Homo sapiens: one gene and its partners. The protein of the gene in region 3 interacts with the protein of the main gene of each other region in a pairwise test. Each region holds a gene or a part of one and is shown on either strand. Other genes may lie near its edges.

Region 1 (2,945 bases), on a different chromosome or scaffold from region 3:
GAGGGCCTTTGAGAGATGTGTATTCAGAATTACTGTCAAGGAAGAGTTAGAGGGACCAGGGGTGTTTAAATGTGAGAAGAGTTGACCAAGACAGAATCTGAGAAGTATTTTCATCTATTTTAAGAGCTGGCATCTAGCGGAGGGATTAAAGACCACCAGTGGGTGACATACAGAAATGGACTTTAACTCAACTGAAGAATGCATCTTCTAAAACCACAGACAGCAGGGGCTTGTAAGGAACTGAGCTCCTGGTCACTGGAAGTGGGCACTAATGACTAGGTGGCTGTCTGTCTGCAGTGGTAATCATGAGAAGGATGGACCGCCCCCGCTCTCTGCCGCCACAATACAATATTCTTCATTAAGATTTGATGTGTCTAGAATTCCACAGTTCCTGTGCATGCCCAGTGTCTAGAGCTTGCTATTAAGTACTTGTTTACTTTTGTACAGAGAATGGCTTCAGGCAATAGGAATAAAGAAATCACACAGCTGAATACACCAAGTTATTACACTTCAAAAGAAAACTTTAACACTGACACATGTGATATCTTACCATTTATTATAATTGCGCACATTAGTGTGGATTAAGTATGATTAGAAACACTAAGCAATTGAAAAGAAGCAAAAAGGTAATGCATCCCTCTTCCTCAGATCTGCAAAATTCTGTGCCTTTTTAGACATGAGAGAGGCTGTTTTGGATCTAAGTCAATAATGGCTCTTGCAAGATTTCTTTCAATGTCTTGCATGTTGGTTCTAAAACTCCCTTAAAGGCAGACTATACCTTGAACGGGGGAAGCCAGCCTATCTTGGGCCTCTTTACCTTGCCTTTCATCCACTGGTCCTGCACTGAGACTCAGGGATAGCACCTCTCACCAACGGGGTGACTTTTATTTCCTTCACTCATTCATTGAGTGCCTGTGTGTTAGTGTCCACCACGTGCCAAGTCTGATGTTGGGGACTACAGCTGAGGAAGAGCAGTTGGTATTTAGTGTGGGTACATGCCCTCCAGAGGAAATCCACTACAAATAAATGGAATGTTCCTCTCTGATCATTTGGCAGGAAGAACAAGCCCACAAGCCAATGTGCATAGGGCTCAGAAACTGGAGAAAGACGTAGACATTTTATAATTAAATCAAGAGCAGAGGCCCTCATTTTGTATCAGAAATACTCTAAGGTTGTTCTTCCTTTCAAGGAACTTACAGAGTGATGCTGGGCCCACAGATGGCAGAGTCCAGCTGAACCTGAGCAGAGGATCGGCTGACTGCATGGACAGGCTTACATCTGCCCAGCCATCCAACGAGTTTCCATGTCCCAAGTACCTGGGGCCCCAGCAGTTGCCACTAGCTTAAGGCAGAGTCTAGACAGGAAAATGGGTCACTGAAAGCTCTCTGCTCAGATCAGCTAGCCCCCTGGAGCTTTTCCTGGATTCACAAGCTCCTCTTTGGTAATGTCTGTGAGTCAAATCTGTTCTCAGCTGAAAGCATCTCAGTTTGGAGGCATTTTCATGGGCGGAGAGGAGGGAAAGGGGCAGCTTGGCCCTTGAAGTACTTCATGGGGGGGGGGATAATTCAGGGATCCAGGATGCCCAGAGGAAGAGTGTGATTTCACACCTTCTGCTCTTTGCAAGCCTATGCCTTTGGGAGGCCTGAAGGGAGGGTGTTAACCTGGCAGGAACTGTGTACCCTCTGCACAGTGCTTGGCACACACTGAGCACAAAATCAATGCTTGCTTTTGTGGGTGCTGCTCTGGGAAGAGCATGGGCTCTGTAGCGTTCTGCGCAATGCAATAGCCACCTCTCTGAGTTCCAATATCCTCATGTCTAAGATGGGATGAGAATATCACCTTCACAGGATTATTATGGGGATTAATGCCATTACTCTGTGACAGTGCCTGCTATGTGGTAGAGCCTCAAGAAATGTTAGCTGCTTTTCCACCTCCTTAATCCTGCTGGGATCTATACACCCTAAAACCCACTTGGGAAGATTTATGTGTGAAGTTCAGGGAGCAGAATTGAGGGCAAATTAATCAGCTATCAAGATTCCAACAGACACAGATATCACTTTGATCAGTAGCATCCTAAAATCACATCCTACTGAATTTAAACCTAATTGTGTAAATTTTCCAACACATGCCAACATACCTGTAAGGGAACACTCAAATATAGTGAAAGGTGAGTGGAAGACCAAATGAAAAACTGCTATATAACTCAATCAAAAGCAACTAACTACTTTTACAAGTGTATGGAAATTTAAAAAAAATAGATATGGCAAATAGACAAGCTAAACACTAGCCTATGCCAATCCCTAGCATTTGATGTCTGCAATTTACCCACCAGGGATCATCAACAGTCTTCAACTTGGCCCATTATAAGCCTCAAGGGAGTCAGGACACACTGAACCCTACACTTCTGCCCACTTAAACTCATTAGAAAGCCAATCTGTCTTAGGGAAGCCAAGATGGAATTCCTGTTTGATCCTCTTTGGTTGAGCCTGAAATGACATCATGGGCATAAAGCGCTTTCTAAGCTACAAGAAGCTACACACACAAGCAATTATCATAGCATCATTAAGATACGATATTGGATGTATGCAACTTCAACTTGAGAAGGGCAAAAGCATGAAGAAATCAAACAGGGAGGGAGGAGGTGAGGGAAGGGGAGACAGCAACTTGGGGCAAAACTGGGGACAGCCAAATTTGTCCACGAGTCATCAGCTTCTGATCAGCCTGGCGGTGGGGGGTCGCTAAAAGAAAACAGAAGTAGCCATGAGACTGGAAACACATCAGCTAGAGGCCCTCAGGGTGGGTGACTGCTCCAGTCATCAGGAGTTACCACCTAGCTCAAGGTGTGTCTTCTGGAGAGAAGACCATCAGCATGGAGCTAGTGGAAAGCCTGGTTGCTACTGCCTTCAAGGGATATATTCTGCTCTGTGCTCAGACACCGTGATAAA
Region 2 (7,562 bases), on a different chromosome or scaffold from region 3:
GGTCCACCATGGTGTGGTAAGTCGTTTTCTTCTGCCGCCTAGGGGCAAACAGAATCAGTAACAGGAAATAAGGGGATAATTCTGTTGGGAATAGTTGGGCAGAGAGATTTTAGGAGCACAGGATCTGAAGTTAAACAAACCTGATTTCAATTCCTTGCTCTAATCTCTAATTGCATGAACCTCTCTGATTCCAGTTTCTCATCTGTACAGTGGGGACAATACCTACCTGAAAGAGCTGTTGTATAGAATAACGTGTGAACAGACTAGGGCTCTGGCTGGCTACATGCCTATGCAGAAGGTTGCAAGACTATGACTGCATGCTAGAACTTTCCCAAAGAGTTTAGACAAGAGTCACAGTCGGCTTCCTAAGGTAAGCTAGCAGTGAGGGCATGGCAGAAAACCAGCATCAAGAAACAGAAACCATGCCAGATAACACAGCAATAAAGTCCAAGCAATTAAAAAGCAGACACCAAGTCTCATCTAGCTTGCATCTAAGATTTTGGTGAAGCATTTCTGTTGACCTGTATCACCCAAATCAGCAGGCTAGAATTTTTTTCAAGAGACATCGTCAACATCATTAGAAAGCGTGAAACCGGCCGGGCGCGGTGGCTCACGCCTGTAACCCCAGCATTTTGGGAGGCTGAGGTGGGCGGATCAACTGAGGTCAGGAGTTTGAGACCAGCCTGGCCAACATGGTGAAACCCTGTCTCTACTAAAAATACAAAAAATTAGCCAGGCGTGGTGGCATGTGCCTGTAATCCCAGCTACTGGGGAGGCTGAGGCAGGAGAATCGCTTGAACCTAGGAGGTGGAGGTTGCAGTGAGTGGAGATTGTGTTATTGCACTCCAGCCTGGGCGACTAGAGCCAGACTCCATCTCAGAAAAAAAAAAAAAGAGAAAAGAAAGTGTGAAACCAATGGTTAGTAGAATCAAAGCTCTCTTTCTAATTCCTTTCCTATAGTAGCCCTCTAGAGATGTAGGGAAATCCTTAGGAAAACATGGTGACTGTTCAGAGTTCCTCCATTAGCATTGTATCAATTTGAAGCTTATATGCCTATTCTGGCACCAGAAGAGTGGCTGCAGAGAAAATAGGGTTAGCTGGTTTGGCTGGCAGCAAGACAGTCGCAGGGACTATCACATAATTACAAGTTAAAAATAGAGTGAAGTCTACAAACTTGTTCTGTTAGTGTAGCCAGAAAACAAATGGAAGTAGAACCCGAAACCTATTTTAGGCTAATCCTAAAACTGTGGTCATTTTATATTCTGGTGTCCTAGGATGGGGTAAGGTAAGAGTACGAAGGGACAAAAGTGATCCATCTGACAAACTATTCACCAAATGCCATAAAACACATAGTCTGCACCCCAATTAACACCTACCAGCCCACCTCACCAAGCTCCAGAGTAACTCTAAGGTACACAAAGCAAAAGCTGAGGTCCGGCCAATCATCATCACCTATTCTAGGAGCACAGCATGGGTTACTGGAATGTAGTCAAAATGATCTGGATTTAATACTCAGTTCTGTTACACACTTACCAACTGTAGGACCTTGGCAAATCACATAATATTGCTGAGCTTGTTTCCCCAATTAATAAATGGGGGCGAAAACAGGGCCTGCTTTTCTGTAAGAGTTGCAAGATCGAAGGAGATCAAGAACAGGATCTATGCTGTTATATTCATTCTCCTGTTTCTCCAGCACCCAGTACAATTATTCACTACACGAATGACTGAAGGAAACTGTAGCTGCACTTTGTAAATTGAAAGGGTTTATTGCTATTGCTATATTAGGCTATATATTAGGTACTATATTAGGCTAACCGGGTTAACTGTTGTACTGGAGTATTTGCTATTGCATTGTTATATTGCTCTTTGACCTTCCACGGTATTTGAGAAGGCTTTCCTTTTCATCTGCTCACCGAGGGATTTGTCTTGACACCTCTTTGTAATCTGCTCTTAAGCTACACCTGATGGAGTGTCCCATCTTTACCTATGAGCCTGGCAGCAGAAGTGGCAGAGGTTGGCTTTGCAGGTCTGACACCTCTTCTCTACTTCCCTGTCGTTGCACAGGTCACACACCAGGCCCTGGCCTTCCCCACGTAGGCTCTCCAGCATCACATCATTCACGGCCAGGTGGTCTATGGTTAAAGCCTTCACTCCACCCATGGGCAGGTCCACCTGAGCATCACATACAGGACAAAGGATGCCGATCTGCGACTGCAGACTTCGTGGCTTGAGTTCCTGGAATATTGACCCCTCAGAGCTTGTGTCAGAGTCTCCCCCTCGGATGTCCACTACTGAGAAGGGCTCCAGCTGCTCCAGACACGTGGTGCAAACTGTATGCAAACAAGGCAAGAGCCTGGGGGCTTTGAAAAGCCCCAAGCACAGGGGGCAGTGAGTCTTGCCTGAGTTCCCAAGTGCAGTCCCACTAGTGAGTTTGCTTACAAAGCCCAGCAGCGGTTTTCTGTTTTCTGACATACTCCTCACGTTTGTGACCAATATTAGAAAGGGCCCTGGGCAGTTCTACGATTTAGTAGCAGGTGATTAAGCCCACCCAAAGAGAAAGTCTCCAGAACTTGAACAGAGACCATGGGGACTCCCTCGCTGACAAATAAAAGGGCAGACGGGAAGACGAGGCGTCCTCGAAGGAATCACCCACAGATCTACTCAGGAGGGCCCCCTCCTTTCCACTGCATCCCACACCAGACACGCCCACGCCCTCCTCTGCCCCGCAAGTCCTCCCCGGATGCGCTTCCAGGTCTAGCTCTCCAGCTAGTCCTGCTGCCAACAAAGTCACCCCTGCACCTCTCGCTCCCTCCACTGCCACCCCCCTCCCGCCGCCCGCCCCACTGCGCGCCACACGCGACAAGCGCCGACCCCACCCGCGCACGATGAGGTAGGGGCCCTCTTGCTCCTTCCCTCTGCGAAAGGCGCGCGCCGGGTGAGGGAATTGCAAGCCGCCGGCGGGCTTCTCGGTGTCCACCGCCTCTCCCGCGCCTCGGCCCGGGACGCCCGCGGGCTCTGGCCCCTCCTCACACCAATCCCAGCCCGGTCTACTCCGGCGAGTCCAATCACCGTCCGAGAGCGGCGGCCCTCGCCGCTCCGGGCCCCGCCGCCCTCCAGAGTGACGCCACTAAGCATCCAATAAGTTTTGGAAATTCCACATCTTCGCCAGTCCACTCACGCGGGGGGCGGGACCTGACAAGGCCGTGGGCGGGGCGGCCGAAGGGCTTAGAGTGCGGCGGGAGGAAAAGGCCAAGGCTCGGAGCGAGCGGCATAGTGTAGTCAGCGTCACCGTTTCACAGGGACTGTCCCTCTCTCTGTGGTGACCAGAGAGGCCTCAGGACCTCTTAAAAAGCCACGCTGATTTGGCGCCGGGACGGCCTTCTTTCTGCCCTCGGACTCGTCCCACGAACGCAGACTGGGTTCTCCCATTGGTGGATGGCACTGTCAGTTGGCTCTGCGCTGGGAGTGGGAGACGTTTTTCGGGCTCCCGAGGTCTCGGCCGCTCGGGGGCGCCAGACGTTTCTCCTCCACGCGGGTTTGAGGCTGCGAGGCTCCCCTCTGTCCTCAGGCGCTTACTGTAGCTCACAGGTCCCTCAGGCCTAGCGTGCTGGGTACAAGCACTCCCGCGGCTCCCCGACTTTGGGTATTTTTCGGGGGTGAGGGCATCTCAGGCTCGCGTTACGGGGACCGGTTCGGGAGACCGTGGAGCCGAGGTGTCGAATGGAGGGCTTACTTCGGCCGGGCCAGGGAGCGCCACCCTCCTTGTCGGGCTCGGGAAGGCTTTGTTTTCCGGTCCGGGGGGAGTGCAGATGACCTAAGGAGTTGAATGTCACCCGGGATTCCACAGTCCTGTGTAACAGAAACGAGCTGAGCGAGTTGGACCCGCTGTTTTTATCAGTCAATCACGGAGGGCTCCTGCCTGGTCACAGTGAGACAATGGACGGTGGCAATGAGGGACAAGCCCTTTGTGGGCTTAAAACTAATTGGGAAGATGAACACGTCCGACCCCTTTAACTTTATAATTACACGGCCACCTTCTCTGGCCTTACCAGGCGTCTCCTGATTCTCCAAAATTCCAAAAATGGAAACAGCTGCTCCTTTCCCCTCCACCTGTTGTTATCTCCAGTTGCGTCAGCTTGTCTACTGGGCCCTCACTGCTTTCTTTGTTCATGACCTTCCCTACTTAATTTGTACCCAGTGGGCGACTGTTTCACTTGATTCCTTCATTATCTGTTTCATGCTATAGGCATAGTGTCTGGAGCCTAAGCTTTTAAAAGTATGGAATCTGAAAAAAAGTTAACCCCAAAATATGAAAAAAAAAAAAAAAACCATTATAAAATATAAAAATGAAATGTTTGGCCATTTCCAAAATATAACACGCCAATGAGTCAAATGCCACCTTTATATAAAATGTGCAAGTAATTTCCAAATGTTAAGCATATCTCCAAAGATTTTTAAATAGTCCTTACCTAGATTTTTTTCAGCCTCTTGTCCTTCTTGCATCTACTCTCAAAATCGGCATTCGCCTCTCCAGTAGGCTGGAGGAAGTCACAAAAACTGTGTGGACTTGGGTTTGCTATATATTCTTGCTTTGAACTTCACCTTTACCCTCCCTGCTGCTTGGCTGTGCTTTACTTCATCTCTTGTTCATACTGTATCACATTTCTTGTGGTAGTAGTTTCAAGCTTCTCTTGTTTCAGAAGTACTTCATAATTTACACGTGCAATATCTCATTTAGCAGTATCTCATTTAACCTTTAACAATATTGTAAGGAAATGGCCTCAAAGAGGTCTTGCCAGGTCTTGGATGGCCAGCCCAAGTTAACATATCTGGAACTTGAACACAACCTTATGATGCCATATCTAAGATTATATTCGGGCTACCTCTACCTTTCCCTTTTTTTTTTTTTCTTTTTTTGAGATTGAGTTTTGCTCTTGTTGCCTAGGCCGGAATGCAATGGCAGGATCTCGGCACACTGCAACCTCCACCTCCAGGGTTCAAGCGATTCTCCTGCCTCAGCCTCCCAGGTAGCTGGAATTACAGGCATGCACCACCACACCTGGCTAATTTTTTGTATTTTTAGTAGAGACTGGATTTCACCATGTTGGGCAGGCTCCTCTCGAACTCCTGACCTCAGGTGATCCACCCGCCTCGGCCTCCCAAAGCGCTGGGATTACAGGCGTGAGCCACCGCGCCTGGCCACCTCTACCTTTCCTTTCTCAGTTTATTAAGCATCAAATCCCTCACACATGCTGCAGCTAATTCCCTTCCATTGATGAGAAAAACAAGGTTGTCTGAAGAACTGCCTCGCCTTTCTACTTAAAAAATCCATGATTCCTCACACCTCCTCTCTTACCTCTCCTGACTGCCATTCTTTAGTGCCAAGATTAGTTCCTCAAGATTTTTGTTTTTTATCCCAACCTCTCCTGCTTCCTCAAAACCTTATTCCTATGTTTCAGTCAGTTTTTCTGCCAAGAGTTCTGATGAAGTCCTGAAAGGGGAAGCAAATCGTCTTTTGATCTAGCTCCCCTTCAACGTATTAATAGTGGTGGTTCTCGCCCCTATATTTCTCAAAAGGGTGGTCTCACTGTCTGCTTTCATCATCTTTTTATAACCATCACCACCGATTTATTCCTCCCCTCTTTCCTATTGAGACTTTCTTGTAGATCATGAGTGACCATATTGCTGGCCTTTTCTCAATAGGCAATCTCTTTAGTATTTACCATTTTTTGTACTTCCTCATCCTTAAAACTTGCCTCCTCCTTGACTTCTGAAATACTCTACTCTCCTAACCTTCTGTCTCTTGGGCTGCTTCTCACACCCTCCATCCTCACTAGTTCCCCTTCCTCCACTTTATCTCCTACCTTTGCGTCTACATTTCCTCACGTGGATGATTCCCAGACCAACGCTTCCAGTACTGATGTCTCCCCTGAGCTTTTGACATAGATTTCTAAATCTGCACTCAAATATGTTCCTATCACCAAGTCCCACATAGCTTAAACTTCACTGAACTTCTTTGCTCACTGAACTGCACTCTCTGAATTTTCCTATTTGATTCTCTCCAGAGTATCATCATTCTCCTTTCCCTCCTGCATGAAACCTTATAGTGCTGCTGGCCTCCTTTCTCTTGTTCCATATCCAGGCAGACACCGATTTCTTTCCATCCCCACTGCCAACACCTCACTGCATACACTTTTTAAGATGCTATAGCTCTTTATCACCCTCACCTTAAGTATTACAATAGTGTCTGAATTATCCCTGCCCTTTATTTTTTTTGATCTACACAGTTCTTCCAAATTAATTGTAAAAACATATAAAAACATGATACAAGTCAGTCTTCATTCTAAAACTTTCAGTAGCTCCCCATTTTTGTAGGATAATATCTGCATTCTTCAATAGATTCATAAAACTGCTTGTTTAGTTATTCCCTAAACATTGCCAAGCACGTTTCTTGGTGTTTGCCAAGTTGTCGGCAACATTCTCCTTCCTTTATTATTTAAACCTACCCTTCCTTCTATGAAAGCCCTACTTCACACTACCCCCTTGAAGCTTTCTCTTATTTCAGGGCTCCAGATTCAAGCCTAATGCTGTTTTGCCTATATTATTCACTTTGCAGTTTGTGCTACCTTGTGGTATTGTTTTTATTTATTATGTGTGTATATATATGCATGTGTATATATTTACATATGTGTATATATTTACACACTATATATATCACATACATACATGTATACTCTCTCTGTTAAGATGGAAAATCTTGGCAACCTAGACAGTAGTCATTTAATAAAGACCTGTTATTGATGAAGGAGAGAATGGTGATCTCAAGTAATGGGAGGACAAACAGGACCACCTTCAACCAAGAGTTTTATGGATAGTGCAGACCATAAGTGATATGGGGTGACATCACAGGACGAGAGAGGATTTGTTAAGGATGCTCCTTTCTCAGAATTAGTTCGGTGTCTTCTTCCATGCTCACACATTGCTTCATCTGTCTGGGGAAGCAATAGTCATGGGATGAGAGGAACAGGACTGATGAAAGTGACCAGCGTTCATGAAAGTGTCTACAAGACTTTCAGCCCACACCTGTTTGCCCAAGACAGGGAAGATATTGAAGGCAAGAAAGCCAGGAAGGGAGAATGACCCATCAGGAAATCAGGCAAGGCTGGTTTGGGCACTATGCTTGATCATTACCATCAGACATTGAGTGGATATATGGAAAGGGACCAGAGAGTTCTGTCAGACTTATCTTTCACCATTCCATCTGTCTCTGTCACCATCCTTCCTTCTTTCCTTCAAAGGAAGGAGACTCCTTTCTCCTGGGACCTGTGCTCTGAAGTTCAGCCCTGCCTGCCTCCTCTCTCTTCTGTCTTTATCTTCTTTCTGGTGGATCTTTCTTTCCGCTCATGTCCATGCTTCAGTCTCTCCTTCTACCCTATGCCCCTCTCTAGCTCCCAATCCCTCTCTACTTCTTTATAGCCAAGCTGCTTGACAAGAATAGTCTACATTTGCATCTCTTCTTCCCTTGCATTTTACTCCTAAACACAGCGCAATCTGGCATTTGC
Region 3 (6,924 bases):
ATGAAGGAGAATCGCTTGAACCCAGGAGGCGGAGGTTGCAGTGAGCCGAGATGGCGCCATTGCACTCCAGCCTGGGCAACAAGAGAGAAACTCTGTCTCAAAAAAAAAAAAAAGAAAAGAAGAAAAAGAAAGAAAGAGAGAGAGGGGGAGGGAGGAAGGGAGGGAGAGAGAGAGAGAGAAAGAAAGAAAAGAAAGAAAGAAAGAAAGAAAAGAAAGAATAAGACTCATCAATTAATTTCTACAGTGGAAACTACTTCTGGGACTGGAATATAGAAAACAAGAATTGGCAGAGGCCGGGTGCAGTGGCTCACAGCTGTAATCCCAGCACTTTAGGAGGCCGATGCAGGTGGATCACCTGTGGTCAGGAGTTTGAGACCAGCCTGGCCAACATGTTGAAACACTGTCTCTACTAAAAATACAAAATTAGCTGGGTGTGGTGGCACATGCCTGTAATCACAGCTACTCGGGAGACTGAGGCAGGAGAATCGCTTGAATCTGGGAGGCGGAGGTGTAGTGAGCTGCGATCATGCCATTGCACTCCAGCCTGGGCAACAAGAGCGAAACTCCGAATCAAAAAAAAAAAAAAAAAAAAAAACAGAAAGAAAAAAGAAAAAGAAATGGCTGGGCACATTGGCTCACGCCTGTAATCCTAGCAGTTTGGGAGGCTGAGGCGGGTAGACCACCTGAGGTCAGGAATTCAAGACCAGCCTGACCAATATGGTGAAACCCCGTCTCTACTAAAAATACAAAAATTAGCCAGGCGTGGGGGCACAAGCCAGTAATCCCAGCTACTCAGGAGGCTGAGGAAGGAGAATCGCTTGAACCCGGGAAGTGGATGTTGCAGTGGGCCAAGATCGCGCCACTGCACTCCAGCCTGTGCTACGGGAGTGAGAATCCATCTCACACAAACACACACACAAAAAGAATCAAAGGTTTTGATTGTGAGTTGCAGTAAAGGGAAAGACCATGTTCATAGCAGTGCCAATATCTGAAGTGGAGTCTTACACATTTCATCACCTACAACGAAAGTAAGTTAACTGGGAGAGATTACCAAGAGAGTAAAAAGAGACTCAGGACAAATAGCTAATGTATGCAGGACTTAAAACCTGCATGACGGGTTGATAGATGCAGCAAACCACCATGGCACACGTATACCTATGTAACAAACCTGCATGTTCTGCACATGTATCCCAGAACTTTAAGTTAAAAAATAAGCCAGGCGCGGTGGCTCACGCCTGTAATCCCAGCACTTTGGGAGGCCGAGGCGGGCAGATCACCTGAAGTCGGGAGTTCGAGACCAGCCTGAGCAACAAGGAGAAACCCCATCTCTACTAAAAATACAAAATTAGCTGGGCGTGGTGGTGCATGCCTGTAATCCCAGCTACCCAGGAGGCTGAGGCAGGAGAATTGCTTGAACCCGGGAGGCGGAGGCCATGGTGAGCTGAGATCACGCCACTGCACTCCAGCCTGGGCAACAAGAGTGAAACTCCGTCTCAAAATAAATAAATAAATAAAAATAAAAAGAGAGACTAATACAGTTGGAAAAAAAAGATTAGGCAGGACTTGTTGAGTGATTGAATATTGGCTGGAAAGGAGGCAAGGACAATCCCAGCTGTAACCTGGGTACATGGAGAGAAGAAGCAGGCCACTTTCCACACACCCACCTTGATATCCTCCTTGGTAAGCCGCGGCCAGGCCACCTTTTCCTTCCATTTTCTCACAAAACAAGTAATAGAGCGGGAAGAGCGCTTATCCTGGGAGTCCTGCCAGATAGAGAGCCTCATTCTTAGGGTCTGGGGTTTAGAATTAATCTCCAGTTTCCCTGGGCAGCCCGGTTTCCATCCAAACCTTACTGTCCCATTTCACCCTTACCTTGGAGTTCACTTTGGCATAGAACTCAATCTCATTGTACAACTCCACTCCATCGGCATTCTTGCAGCTGAGGAGACAATGAAGCTGAGGAGATGCGGAATACTCCGTGTGGGGACATTAGGAAAGGGGTAGATTCCTGGGAAGCCAGGCCCTCGGACGGCAGGGCCACTACCTGAACACAATGCGGTGATCCTCAATAAGCACGTGGACATCGGTGCTGTCCTCAACACAAAACTCCATGAACACATACCTGGGCCTGTCGTACCACAAGGTCCGGGCGTGCTGCCTGAAGAGAAGTTGAGGTGTGGCTTCATAGGGGTGGGAGAGGGAAGACTGAGGTCATTTGGGAAGGGACTACCCAGGGACCTTTGATGCCACAGTTTTTTCAAAGTGGAGCTAAATGAGACAGAAGGGGTGAAAGGGAAGGGAATGACAGGAGTGGGTGGGTGTGGTGAATGTGAACCTGGGAAGAATAGAACGTGCAAGACTAGGAAACTAGGAGGTCAGGGAGAACATTCAGGTCACACCTTCCCTCACCCCACAGTTACAGAGACCAGGGGTCCGGGGCTCCCGTGGGGCCTCACAGAACCTGGAGCGCCCAGAAGACTTGGAGCAGGGAATCTCCAGGGAAAAGGGCCAGGGGGAGCACCGGAGCCGGAAACACTCACCGTGCCATTGCGGCTCCCGCTCCAGGGTGGCATTTAGAGTTCCAGGCAGGGGCCGCTATCTTTAGATCCTGGGGACGCCCCCAGCAGCTGCCTCTCCTTATATGGTCGGGAGAGCAGTTGAGAGGAAGAGAGAACATGACCTGGCAGCCAAGGGATCTGCACTCTGGAGATACTCTGGGACAGCTTCATCCTTGCAGCCCTTCACCGTGGGGTCTTCAGAAATGCATAGACTATGAAGAGACAACCCATCTGCTGGAACCAGGGCAAAGGCTGCCCTAGACGCTACACACAGGGAATGACTTTTCCCCGGTATCATTCACCTGTTTCTCCGACGCTTACTGCTCAGTGTCTGATTCACAATAGGCGCTCAATAAAACATTATTGTCCTGAATTAAATTCCCGGGGAAGGCGCGCCCTCGGGGACTTGGGTACTTCAGGCCCCGCCCACCACTCCCCTGGGGTTCCAGGCCACCGCGCCGTTGCCATGGCAGCAGGGGGGCGCGGCTGACGTGCGGTGGTGTTTCCGGGAAGATGGCGGCTGTCGAAGCGGCTGCAGAGCCGGTAACGGTGGTGGCGGCTGTTGGGCCAAAGGCGAAAGACGAAGAGGAGGAGGAAGAGGAGCCGCTGCCACCGTGCGAGGCGGTGCGCTGGGCCCCAGTGGGGGCGGTGGCGGAGGCCCGGCCTGGGGCAACCGCGTTTTTAGAAGAGGCGACGGCCGAGGAGCCTGGCGCGGCCCCGGGCTCCCCGCCGGATTCGCCGGGCCGGACGCTGCGGCGGCTGCGGGCAGAGCGGCGGCGGCTGGACTCGGCGCTGCTGGCGCTGTCCTCGCACTTCGCGCAGGTGCAGTTCCGCCTGCGCCAGGTGGTGCGCGGGGCGCCGGCGGAGCAGCAGCGCCTTCTGCGGGAGCTCGAAGACTTCGCCTTCCGCGGCTGCCCTCACGTCCTAGGTTACGAAGGGCCCGGCGACCCCGCCAGCGATGAGGGCGATGGGCTGCCAGGGGACCGGCCATGGTTGCGGGGCGAGGACCAGGTGAGTGGCTGGAGCCGGGCCGCGAGGAATATGGGAATAGTGGGGTCGTGTGGGTGGCGATCCAGACCCGGATGATGGTGCATGCGGGGAGAAGCCTCCCCGACTCGGTCGGTGAGTACGTGTGTCGGAGACCAGGGGACTGGAGTGCGGGGCCGGCTGAAGGGCAAGAGGACAGAGGCCTGGGAACCTGAGGGTGAGCGGTGTGCACGGAGGATGTGGAGAGATGTCGGTGCGTGATGACGTGAGTGGTAGAGGAGCGGTGAGCGAAGTGAGTCGTTGAGAGGGCAGCAGAGCAGCCAAGAGCAGTGCTGCGCCCACTCACCTTTCCCTCACGTATCTCAGTCTTGAACACTTTGGCTGCTAGAGGACCCCGACTCTGGGGATTGGGAAAATTGGCAAAGGAAAGGAAAGTGAGTTGGAATCCGTGGAAATTTAGGTTAACTCCCTGTCCCTGCTTTCCTGAAATCTAGGCAGTCTTTACACTTCTTTGGGTGGGAGTTTGGATTAACAGCAGGGTCTCTTAGTAACTGAAATAAACACAACTCTTGATTAGATAAATTTCCTAATGTTGGAATTTTTCCTTTTTAAGAGACGGGAGGGTCTTGGTATGTTGCCCAGGCTGGTCTCGAACTCCTGGTCTCAAGCCATCCTCCCGCCTCAGCCTCAGGACTACAGGCGTGTGCCACCGTGCAGGCTATAATGTTGAAATTTTTAAACTCTTCCTCCATCCTGCTTAATCATTAGGCATTCTGAATGAGGTCCTCTGATAACTGACAAGATCGATTCAGTGTGCCTACCCCAGAAGTAGTGAAACTATGTATAAGACACCAGGTAAACGTTTCCTTACAAGCTTTGCATCTCTGGAAGTGCACAAAGTGCTGGCTTTATTGGAAGTGTTGAGGTACACTGCCTTTTCACTTTTTTTTTTTGAGACAGAGTCTCACTCTGTCACCTAGGCCAGACTGCATTGGCGCAATTTCTGCTTACTGCAACCTCTGCCTCCTGGGCTCAAGCAATCCTCCTGCCTCAGCTTCCCCAGTATCTGGGACTACAGGTGTGTGCCACCACACCCAGTTAATTTTGTTTATTTTTTGTTGAGGCGGGGTTTCACCACATTGCCCAGGCTGGTCTCGAACTCCTGAGCTCAAGCGATCTGCCCTCCTCAGCCTACCAAAGTGCTGGGATTAGAGAAGTGAGCCACCATGCCCCATCCCTTTTCACCATTTTATTCTTCAAACTACAATCTACATGTGGCTTTCTTCCCACTTACATTGGTTTTAGCCAAGAAGATTTATCAAGCAGATAATGATTTGTTTATTTTAGTCTGAACTGTTTCCAGTGCAATCCTGTGTTTACTGTTCCACCCTTCTCCACATACCTGCAACTCCTTACACAAGGAGCAGCCACCTCAAACTGTCAGATTTAAGGGCTAGAAAGGGGTGGACAGCACCAAAGGTTCTACATGATAGGAAACTCTGTTGTTCATTTTCACCTTTAGAAACAGTAGGCCAACCCCATTTTCCATGATGTGATTATGACACATTGCATGCCTGTAGCAACATTTCATGTACCCCATAAATATATACACATACTATGTACCCATAAAAATTAAAAACTAGCCCAGCGCAGTGGCTCACGCCTGTAATCCTAGCACTTTGGGAGGCCAAGGCGGGCGGATCACCTGAGGTTGGGAGTTCGAGACCAGCCTGACCAACATGATGAAACCCCGTCTCTACTAAAAATACAAAAAAAAAAAAAAAAAACTAGCCAGACATGGTGGCACATTCCTGTAATCCCAGCTACTCGGGAGGCTGAGGCAGGAGAATCGCTTGAACCTGGGAGGCAGAGGTTGCGGTGAGCCAAGATCGTGCCATCGCACCCCAGCCTGGGGCAACAAGAGTGAAACTCTGTCTCAAAAAAAAACACACAAAAAATTAAAAACTGAAAAAAAAAAAAAGACTGTGTGCAGTGGCTCATGACTGTAATCCCAACACTTGGGGAGGCGAAGGCTGGAGGAGGATCACTTGAGCCCAGGAGTTGGAGGCTGCAGAGAGCTATGATCATACCGCTGCACTCCAGCCTGAGTAACAGAGCAAGACCCTGTCTCAAAAAAAAAAGGCAAAAGAAACATTGTACCACCTTAAAAAAAAAAAAAAAAAGTAGTGCTCAATCCACCTACAAGTTGTAATCTTGTATTTATACATTGAATACATTGACAGGTGAACAGGTAGGACCAGAGTAGGGAATATCATTGAACTGAATGATTTACTTCTTACCACTTACCTTTTTTTTTCTTTTTCCTTTTTTTTTTTTTTTTTTTTGAGACAGAGTCTCACTCTGTTGCCAGGCTAGAGTGCACTGGCATGATCAGGACTCACTGCAGCCTTGACTCCCAGGCTCAGTAGATCCTCCTACCTCAGCCTCTCGAGTAACTGGGACCACAGGCGAGCATCACCATGCTCAGCTAGTTTTTGTATTTGTAGAGATGAGGTTTCACCATATTGCCCAGGCTGGTCTTGAACTCCTGGGCTCAAGCAAGCCACCCACCTTGGCCACCCAAAGTGCTGGATTACAGGCATGAACCACTGTACCCCGCCAATTTTTTTTTTTTTCTTGAGACAGAGTCTCACTCTGTCGCCCAGGCTGGAATGCAGTGGCACCATCTTGGCTCACAGCAACCTCCGCCTCCTGGGTTCAAGCGATTCTCCTGCCTCAGCTTCCCAAGTAGCTGGGACTACAGGTGCCCGTCACCACGCCTGGCTAATTTTTGTATTTTTAGTAGAGATGGGGTTTTGCCATGTCGGCCAGGCTGGTCTCGAACTCCTGGCCTCGAACGCCTGACCTCATAATCTGTCCGACTCGGCCTCCCAAAGTGCTGGGATTATAGGTGTGAGCCACCGTGCCCGGCCCTAAATTTTTATTTTCCACTCTGTTGCCCAGGCTGGTGTGCAGCAGCATGATCACAACTCACTGCATCCTCAACCTCCTGGGCTCAATCCATCCTCCCAGCTCAGCCTCCCAAGTAGCTGGGACCACAGGCGCACACTACCATGACTAGCTAATTAAAAAATATATTTTTTCTGTAGAGGTGGGGCTCTCCCTATGTTGCTCAGCTGGTCTCTGACTCCTGGGCTCAAGCCACCCTCCCACCTTAGCCTCCCTAAGTGCTGGGATTACAGGCATGAGCCACTGCACCTGGCCCCCAGTTTTTTTTTTTTTTTTTTGAGACAGAGTCTGGCCCTGTCACCCAGGCTGGAGTGCAGTAGCATGATCTCAGCTCACTGCAACCTCCACCTCCTAGGTTCAAGCTGTTCTGCTGCCTCAGCCTCCCTAGTAGCTGGGACTGCAGGCATGT
Region 4 (7,037 bases), on a different chromosome or scaffold from region 3:
ACATATGTTGCTGCTACTCACCTTTGCATATGCTAGTACCTCTGTAGGCACCACCTTTTCCTCCCCTCCTTCCTTAGTCAGCATGGTACATTCCTGTTCAATTTTCAGAACCCTACTTAGGTGCCATCTCTCTAAAGAGAAACCTGTGAACCATCACCTCCCTCACCTCAGGAAAGCACCAGTTCATTTGCTAGTCTAAACTACTACTGCTCCTGGCAGGCACGGTGGGTCATGCCTGTAATCCCAGCACTTTGGGAAGCTGACGCTAGCGGATCACCTGAGGTCAGGAGTTTGAGACCAGTCTGGCCAACATGGTGAAACCCCGTCTGTACTAAAAATACAAAAATTAGCTGGGTGTGGCTGGGCGCGGTGGCTCACGCCTGTAATCCCAGCACTTTGGGAGGCCAAGGCAGGCAGATCACCTGAGGTCAGGAGATCGAGACCATCCTGGCTAACATGGTGAAACCCTGTCTCTACTAAAAACACCAAAAAATTAGCCGGGCATGGTGGTGGACGCCTGTAGTCCCAGCTACTCAGGAGGCTGAGGCAGGAGAATGGTGTCAACCCGGGAGGCGGAGCTTGCAGTGAGCCGAGATCACGCCACTGCACTCCAGCCTGGGTGACAGAGCCAGACTCCATCTAAAAAAAAAAAAATTAGCTGGGCGTGGTGGCAGGTGCCTGTTATCCCAGCTACTAGGGAGGCTGAGGCAGCAGGATTGCTTGAACCCAGGAAGCGGAGGTTGCAGTGAGCCGAGATGACACCACTGCACTCCAGCCTGGGCGACAGAGCAAGACTCTGTCTCAAAAACAAGACAAAACAAAAAAAGAATTACTACTGCTCCTTATACATATTTTTGTCATTTATATTTATTGTCTATTTTTTCTTCCCCACGAATTTGTAAGTTCCTTAAAGTTAGGAATGCTGTCTTACTCGTATTCATACTTAAAGTGTCTGTCATAGTGTGTAAAATATAACAGATGATAAATAGCTACCAAACCTTTTGGTGCTTAGTGTTTTCACAAGTGTTTTTGTAAAAGCAAATCTGTAGTGTAGTGTAAACATTTTCTTGAGTTAAAAGCTTACCTTAAATGTTTTTGGAATAGGAAAAATTGTGCTGTTTATTAAAGTTAAATATTGTACCATGGGAACATTTAAGATAACATCTAGAAAATAGATGTCCTTAGATTTGTATTTGATCACCTTACCAAAACCTGAATGTATGGAGTGTGTTTAAATTGAGAAATACAGATTCATCATTAGCAAATTAATGGTTGTCATTTATTTTTCTCTGCCCAATTAGAAAACCTAATAGTTGATCAACATAGGCTTTAAAAAAAAAATTACCTTTCTTTGTTGTACTAGCTTTTAAATTAAAAAGACAATCTCGCTAAAGCAGTGGCATTAGGCACATGATTTTCCAAATTGAAAAATGCTATGTTTTTATTTATTTAGATTACCAGTTGAATATCCTAACTTTTACTGTTACAAATCTGTATATTTAAGCCAGAGTAACTGTAAAGCCTAGCTGTATATTTGGAATCATTTTCTCTGCAGTTACTCCTAATCATGTTCTGTAACAGTAGGCTCCATAGCCTATTTTTTCTTTTATTTGATTCAGCACCTGGCATAGTACCTACACTTACAGGTGCTCAAGTGTTTGTTGAATGGATGAAAGTCATTGAATTGGTGAGTTCCTCAATCTTAACCTACTACCCTGCTCCTTGCAGGTTGCTTCAGGACCAGCTCCCTGCTGCCACAGCCCTTGGCCACAGCAGCAAGAAGCTAGTCCTTCCCTTGTAATTGATAAATTGGGGAACTATTTTATTACTTGAAGATTTCCCTAAGTCTGAATCTTCAGGTATTGTAGATCAAATTTGTTCCCCACTTTACTGATTATGTAAGCTTGAAGTATATACAGTGGGGCTGCATAAAATGAAGGATACTTGCAGTCAGCTAATGGGACCCATACTTTTATAGTACCTTGAGGAGCAATAATAGAATTAGTTTTGATGTTTAACTCTGATCCAGTTTCGCATAAGTTGAGAGTAGGTATTCTTGAACCTGTGATCCTGATTTGAAAAATAGCTCTCTCATATGGTAAAAAAAACAAAACAAAACAAAACAAAACCACGAACAGTCTTGCTAGTCCCTTTTCTCATATGGGAATTTTTACTGTGGGGATTCTAACTATTGGGATACTTTTTAAGGCATATTCCTCTATAAAACATAAAATGTCTAGACTTACCTGGTTTTGAACAGCTTAGTGTTAAAAGAGTAACTTTGATTACGTAAAAAGCCTTTGAAGTATTTTAATGAACACTAGTCTTTGCTATTGGTAAGAAATCTGCTTGTTTTATTAAAATGCTTAATTGAAGAAAATAATATTCTTCTGTGATTAAAATTAGGAAGAAATAGAACCATTTCCAGAAGAAAGGGAGAACTTTCTTCAGCAATTGTACAAATTTATGGAAGATAGAGGTGAGTATTTTTTATTTATCATTAACGTGGTAAGTTTTGGACAGATAATTAGTATCTTAAAAATAAGAATAGAATTTTGTTTACTGAACTTTATGTCATCAGTAATTATGGCTGTCTTTTTGACTCTGATATCACCAGCACCTAGCATAGCGCCTGTCACGTAACAAGTAGAATGAGGAATTTGATAGCATTTTGACAGATATTGTGGCTATGGACACATAAATGCACTTATTACCCTGTCCTGCCAATCCCTTTACCTATCCATGGGTCCCTAAAGAACAGTAGCAAAATGGGAATTAAGCCAGAAATAGATAAAGAAGTGTGACAAAGTCTCAAAAGTGAGCCTTGGCTCAGCTTATTTAATCTGCCAGAAGCTGCTAAGGCCACGGAAGGATTGAAGGAAGAAGAATAACTTAGGGTAATGAACTAATCCTTCCGTAACCTCAACACTGTTATTCTCTAGCTTATCTTCTTGGTCAGAGTCTACTTTCTTCTTTTCTGGGAAGATGCTTGTAAGGGAGTAAGGAGAGGCTTTCTAGCTGGAAGGGAAGGGCAAAATGAATGATTAGTGTTTGGAAACACCACAATACTCTGGGAATTGAACGTTTTCTAAATCCCTGATTGTAATGCTGATGAGTAGAAACTGACTCTGTTTGTCATGTTTAGTTTTCATAAATGATAACAACGCCTAACACAATATAAGTATATTTTCTTTTTCAATATAAAATGTCTTTGATTCTTGTATTATTTCTTTACATGAATGGAGGGTTGGCCTAAGAAGTATGCTGTTTCATAGGCTCTTGTATAAGATAAATGAAAAAGCAAAGAAAATGAATAAAATCTAATACTAGAAAAGAATGAAAAAATATGATTAAGCCAGTCATATATTTTGTAGAAATGGCCATATGAGGCATTGTACCCCTACCCTGTTACCTCCTCTACCACTTTCTCATGGTTTGTTTGATTTAGCATCCTTGCCTTGCGTTTTCTTGTGTTAGAATGAAAAAAAAAAAAAAATGTAGCTTTACTATAGAATCATTATTTAGAGTAGTAGTAAATTGGTAAAATACAAAGAAAATGCCATAAAAGTAACTCTTATTGGGAAGCAGTTATCTAGTATTTCTTCCCTCAGCAGAGGGAAGAAAGTAGAATGAAAATAAAAGGTTTCAAGAATCTGGTTATGGTTTTTAAAATTTAAAAAATTTTAAAGTGGCCATGGGCTTATTTATGTGTAGATACCATGTCTTTGATTAACAAGATAATTTCTCATATATATATATACATATATATGTATATATACACACACATATATATACGTGTATATATATATATACGTGTATATATATATAAAATACTATAAATACTTGTATTATTTGAATCTTTTGAAATTTTAAATTAAAAATGTAGTGTGGATCTAATATAGTTTGTGTTTTCTGTAACAGGTACACCTATTAACAAACGACCTGTACTTGGATATCGAAATTTGAATCTCTTTAAGTTATTCAGACTTGTACACAAACTTGGAGGATTTGATAATGTGAGTGTTGTAGTCAAACTGAAACATCTTTTTCATGTAACATGTTTTCTCAGGTATCTGCCATCTCTGAAATTGTTTTTCTAAACAACAAAACAAAGTTTTTCAGTAAAAACCTAAGAAGAAGATAAAGTGGAAAGTACAGCTAGCCTCCTCAGACAAAATTTAAATTTTAAAGATTTTTTAGGCCAGGCATGGTGGCTCATGCCTGCAACCCCAACACTTTGGGAGGCTGAGGCGGGTAGATCACTTTAGGCCAGGAGTTCAAGAACAGCCTGGCCAACATAGCAAAACCCCATCTCTACAAAGAATACAAAAATCAGCCAGACGTGGTGACGCACGCTTGTAATCCCAGCTACATGGCAGGCTGAGGCACGAGAATCGCTTGAACCCAGGAGACAGAGATTACAGTGAACCAAGATTGCACCGCTGGACTGCATTCCAGCCTGCGTGACAGAATGAGACTCTGTCTCAAAAAAAAAAAAAAAAAGATTTTTTTTCATATCAGCTTTCTGATTACTGTTAAATTGGTCAATCTTTCATAAACCTTCTTTTTTTATCTGAGTCACAGCACAGCCATATTGGTGGAAATCCTTCCTGTGTCTCTTTTTCATTAGACAGTATGCTCCTTAAGAGCAGGGATCTGTCTTAATATTCTGTATATTCTTAATCCCTTTCAGAATATAAAGGGATTAAAGCAGGAAATGTTTGTTGAACTGATCTGAAGAAATTATTTTAAGGTTGACGTGATGTACGATACTTATCCAATTGAGAATATTCTATGGAATAAAATACTTTACAAATTTCTGCAGAACTGCATTTATTAGCCTGTATATTTTATGCGAAATAATAAATCCTTTAAAAATGTTTGTCTCCATTTCTTTGTTAAAAATTTTGATTTAAGAGCCTGAATATTTTTCCATTTTCCATAACTGGGTTTATTTAAAAGTCAAATGGGGCCAGTTATGGTGACTCATGCCTGTAATCTCAGCACTTTGGGAGGCTAAGGCCAGGGGATTGCTGGAGCCCAGGACTTTGAGACCCGCCTGGGCAACATGGTGAGACTCCATCTCCACAAAAAAAATTTTTTAATTAGCCAGGTGTGGTGGTGTGCATCTATAGTCCCAGCTACTTGGGTTGTTGAGTCAGGAAGATCCCTTGAGCCCGGAAGTTCAGGGCTGCAGTGAGCTGTGTTTGTGCCACTGTTGCTGCACTTTAGCCTAGGCAATAGAATAAGATCCTGTCTCCAAAAAAAAAAAAAAAAAAAAAAAAAAAAAAAAAATAGTCAAATGACTTAATATTTCAACATTTATAATTTTCTGATATTTGTTAGAGTACTAAAACCTTTATTTTTAAACCAAATTTAGAATTTATCAAGTTTTTAAAAATTCTTTTGAGTCTAGGACCAATAAATATAAAAATATACTCATATATACTGTGTCTATCAAAATGTTATTATATTAACACCTTTTAATTTGAGAGTTTTTGTTTCACTTTGTCCATTAGATTGAAAGTGGAGCTGTTTGGAAACAAGTCTACCAAGATCTTGGAATCCCTGTCTTAAATTCAGCTGCAGGATACAATGTTAAATGTGCTTATAAAAAGTAAGTTAGTATAATTGATATGATTATCTTCAGTATTTTTACCTAGAAAGCAGGATGAAATTTACCTTATAACTGAGGTTAATTATTTCTTTAAAGAAATCAGAACATTTTACTAGAGTAGTCATTCTATGATAGTATTTTCTAAAGTGTATTCTATGATACTAGATCTATGAGAAATTCTGTGAAGAAAGTTTTTGTGGCTAAGTACATTTGTCAAGTACTTCATAGAGGTTAAAAAGCTAATATTCTGAAGTCAAGTAAATCCACATTTGAATCCTAGTTCTGCCAATTATTAACTGTTTATGCCCTAGGGCCAGTTATTTATTCTCCTAAGCCTCAGTTTCTTCATTTGTAAAATGGAATGCTTGGCCAGGCACGGTGGCTCATGCCTGTAACTTCAGCACTTTGGGAGGCCGAGGCGGGCAGATCACTTGAGGTCAGGAGTTCAAGACCAGCCTGGCCAGCATGGCGAAACCTTGTCTCCACTAAAAATACAAAAATTACCTGAGCATAGTGGCTAACGCCTGTAGTCCCAGCTACTCAGGAGGCTGAGGCAGGAGAATTGCTTGAACCCAGGAGGCGGAGGTTATAGTGAGCTGAGATTGCGCCACTGCACTTCAGCCTGGGCAACAGAGTAAGGCTGTCTCAAAAAAACAAAAAAAAACAAAAAAAAACAAAAAAAGGATGCTGCTGTGTGCCCCAGGGTTACTGTAGTGACTAAATGAGATTTACTAAGGAGTCCAGCCTCACACATAAGAAATGTGCAAAAAATAGATGCTATTACTAATACTTTTAATAGCTGTTATTGTTATGACTCTGAGCACAGTGTTTTAAATGAATTTTTTGACAAAATTTTTTTTTTGCATTGAAAAGATTAGAAAGAACTAGAATAAATTAGAATGTTAATATGGCTCAATATCTGAGAGTTTAGACAAAAGAAATGAATACACATTAAAAATAACTCTATAGTTATATTTTGAAATGTTTTCACCAAATGTAATTTCTCTTCATGTTTCCAGATACTTATATGGTTTTGAGGAGTACTGTAGATCAGCCAACATTGAATTTCAGATGGCATTGCCAGAGAAAGTTGTTAACAAGCAATGTAAGGAGTGTGAAAATGTAAAAGAAATAAAAGTTAAGGAGGAAAATGAAACAGAGATCAAAGAAATAAAGATGGAGGAGGAGAGGAATATAATACCAAGAGAAGAAAAGCCTATTGAGGATGAAATTGAAAGAAAAGAAAATATTAAGCCCTCTCTGGTAAATCAGATATTGTTAATTGTCTTTTGCTTTCTTTGGTATATTTTCCATATCCTCTATAAAGTTCCAAAATCAATATATTGTATAATATTATTCTTTATTATTTGTTTATTTTCTTCATTAAGTGCTACTTTTGTATAATTTTTATCATAACTTC

Evidence for each region.
Region 1: the proteins of PTGES3L-AARSD1 (region 3) and ZNF185 interact in binary tests that used the Homo sapiens proteins (3 or more experiments, as listed by UniProt).
Region 2: the proteins of PTGES3L-AARSD1 (region 3) and TRIM45 interact in binary tests that used the Homo sapiens proteins (3 or more experiments, as listed by UniProt).
Region 4: the proteins of PTGES3L-AARSD1 (region 3) and ARID4B interact in binary tests that used the Homo sapiens proteins (3 or more experiments, as listed by UniProt).

Annotation. Positions count from the first base shown.
Region 1 is NC_000023.11:152,971,067-152,974,011, reverse strand, and holds the end of ZNF185 (zinc finger protein 185), read right to left. Parts: intron 2,739-2,945; 3' UTR 538-2,738; downstream 1-537. UniProt on the Homo sapiens protein: May be involved in the regulation of cellular proliferation and/or differentiation.
Region 2 is NC_000001.11:117,118,730-117,126,291, forward strand, and holds the start of TRIM45 (E3 ubiquitin-protein ligase TRIM45), read right to left. Parts: upstream 3,021-7,562; 5' UTR 2,473-3,020; coding exon 1,985-2,472; intron 39-1,984; coding exon 1-38. UniProt on the Homo sapiens protein: E3 ubiquitin-protein ligase that plays a role in the regulation of inflammatory response.
Region 3 is NC_000017.11:42,977,506-42,984,429, forward strand, and holds the start of PTGES3L-AARSD1 (PTGES3L-AARSD1 protein), read right to left. Parts: upstream 3,024-6,924; 5' UTR 2,678-3,023; coding exon 2,541-2,677; intron 2,508-2,540; exon of another isoform or gene 2,400-2,507; intron 2,159-2,399; coding exon 2,045-2,158; intron 1,940-2,044; coding exon 1,873-1,939; intron 1,764-1,872; coding exon 1,665-1,763; intron 1-1,664. Other genes in the region: putative protein PTGES3L, read right to left, coding at 1,665-1,763, 1,873-1,939, 2,045-2,158, 2,541-2,548; RUNDC1 (RUN domain-containing protein 1), read left to right, coding at 3,072-3,569. UniProt on the Homo sapiens protein: Functions in trans to edit the amino acid moiety from incorrectly charged tRNA(Ala).
Region 4 is NC_000001.11:235,220,145-235,227,181, reverse strand, and holds part of ARID4B (AT-rich interactive domain-containing protein 4B), read left to right. Parts: intron 1-1,619; exon of another isoform or gene 1,620-1,669; coding exon of another isoform or gene 1,670-1,687; intron 1,688-2,406; coding exon 2,407-2,479; intron 2,480-3,921; coding exon 3,922-4,016; intron 4,017-5,519; coding exon 5,520-5,617; intron 5,618-6,636; coding exon 6,637-6,880; intron 6,881-7,037. UniProt on the Homo sapiens protein: Acts as a transcriptional repressor. May function in the assembly and/or enzymatic activity of the Sin3A corepressor complex or in mediating interactions between the complex and other regulatory complexes.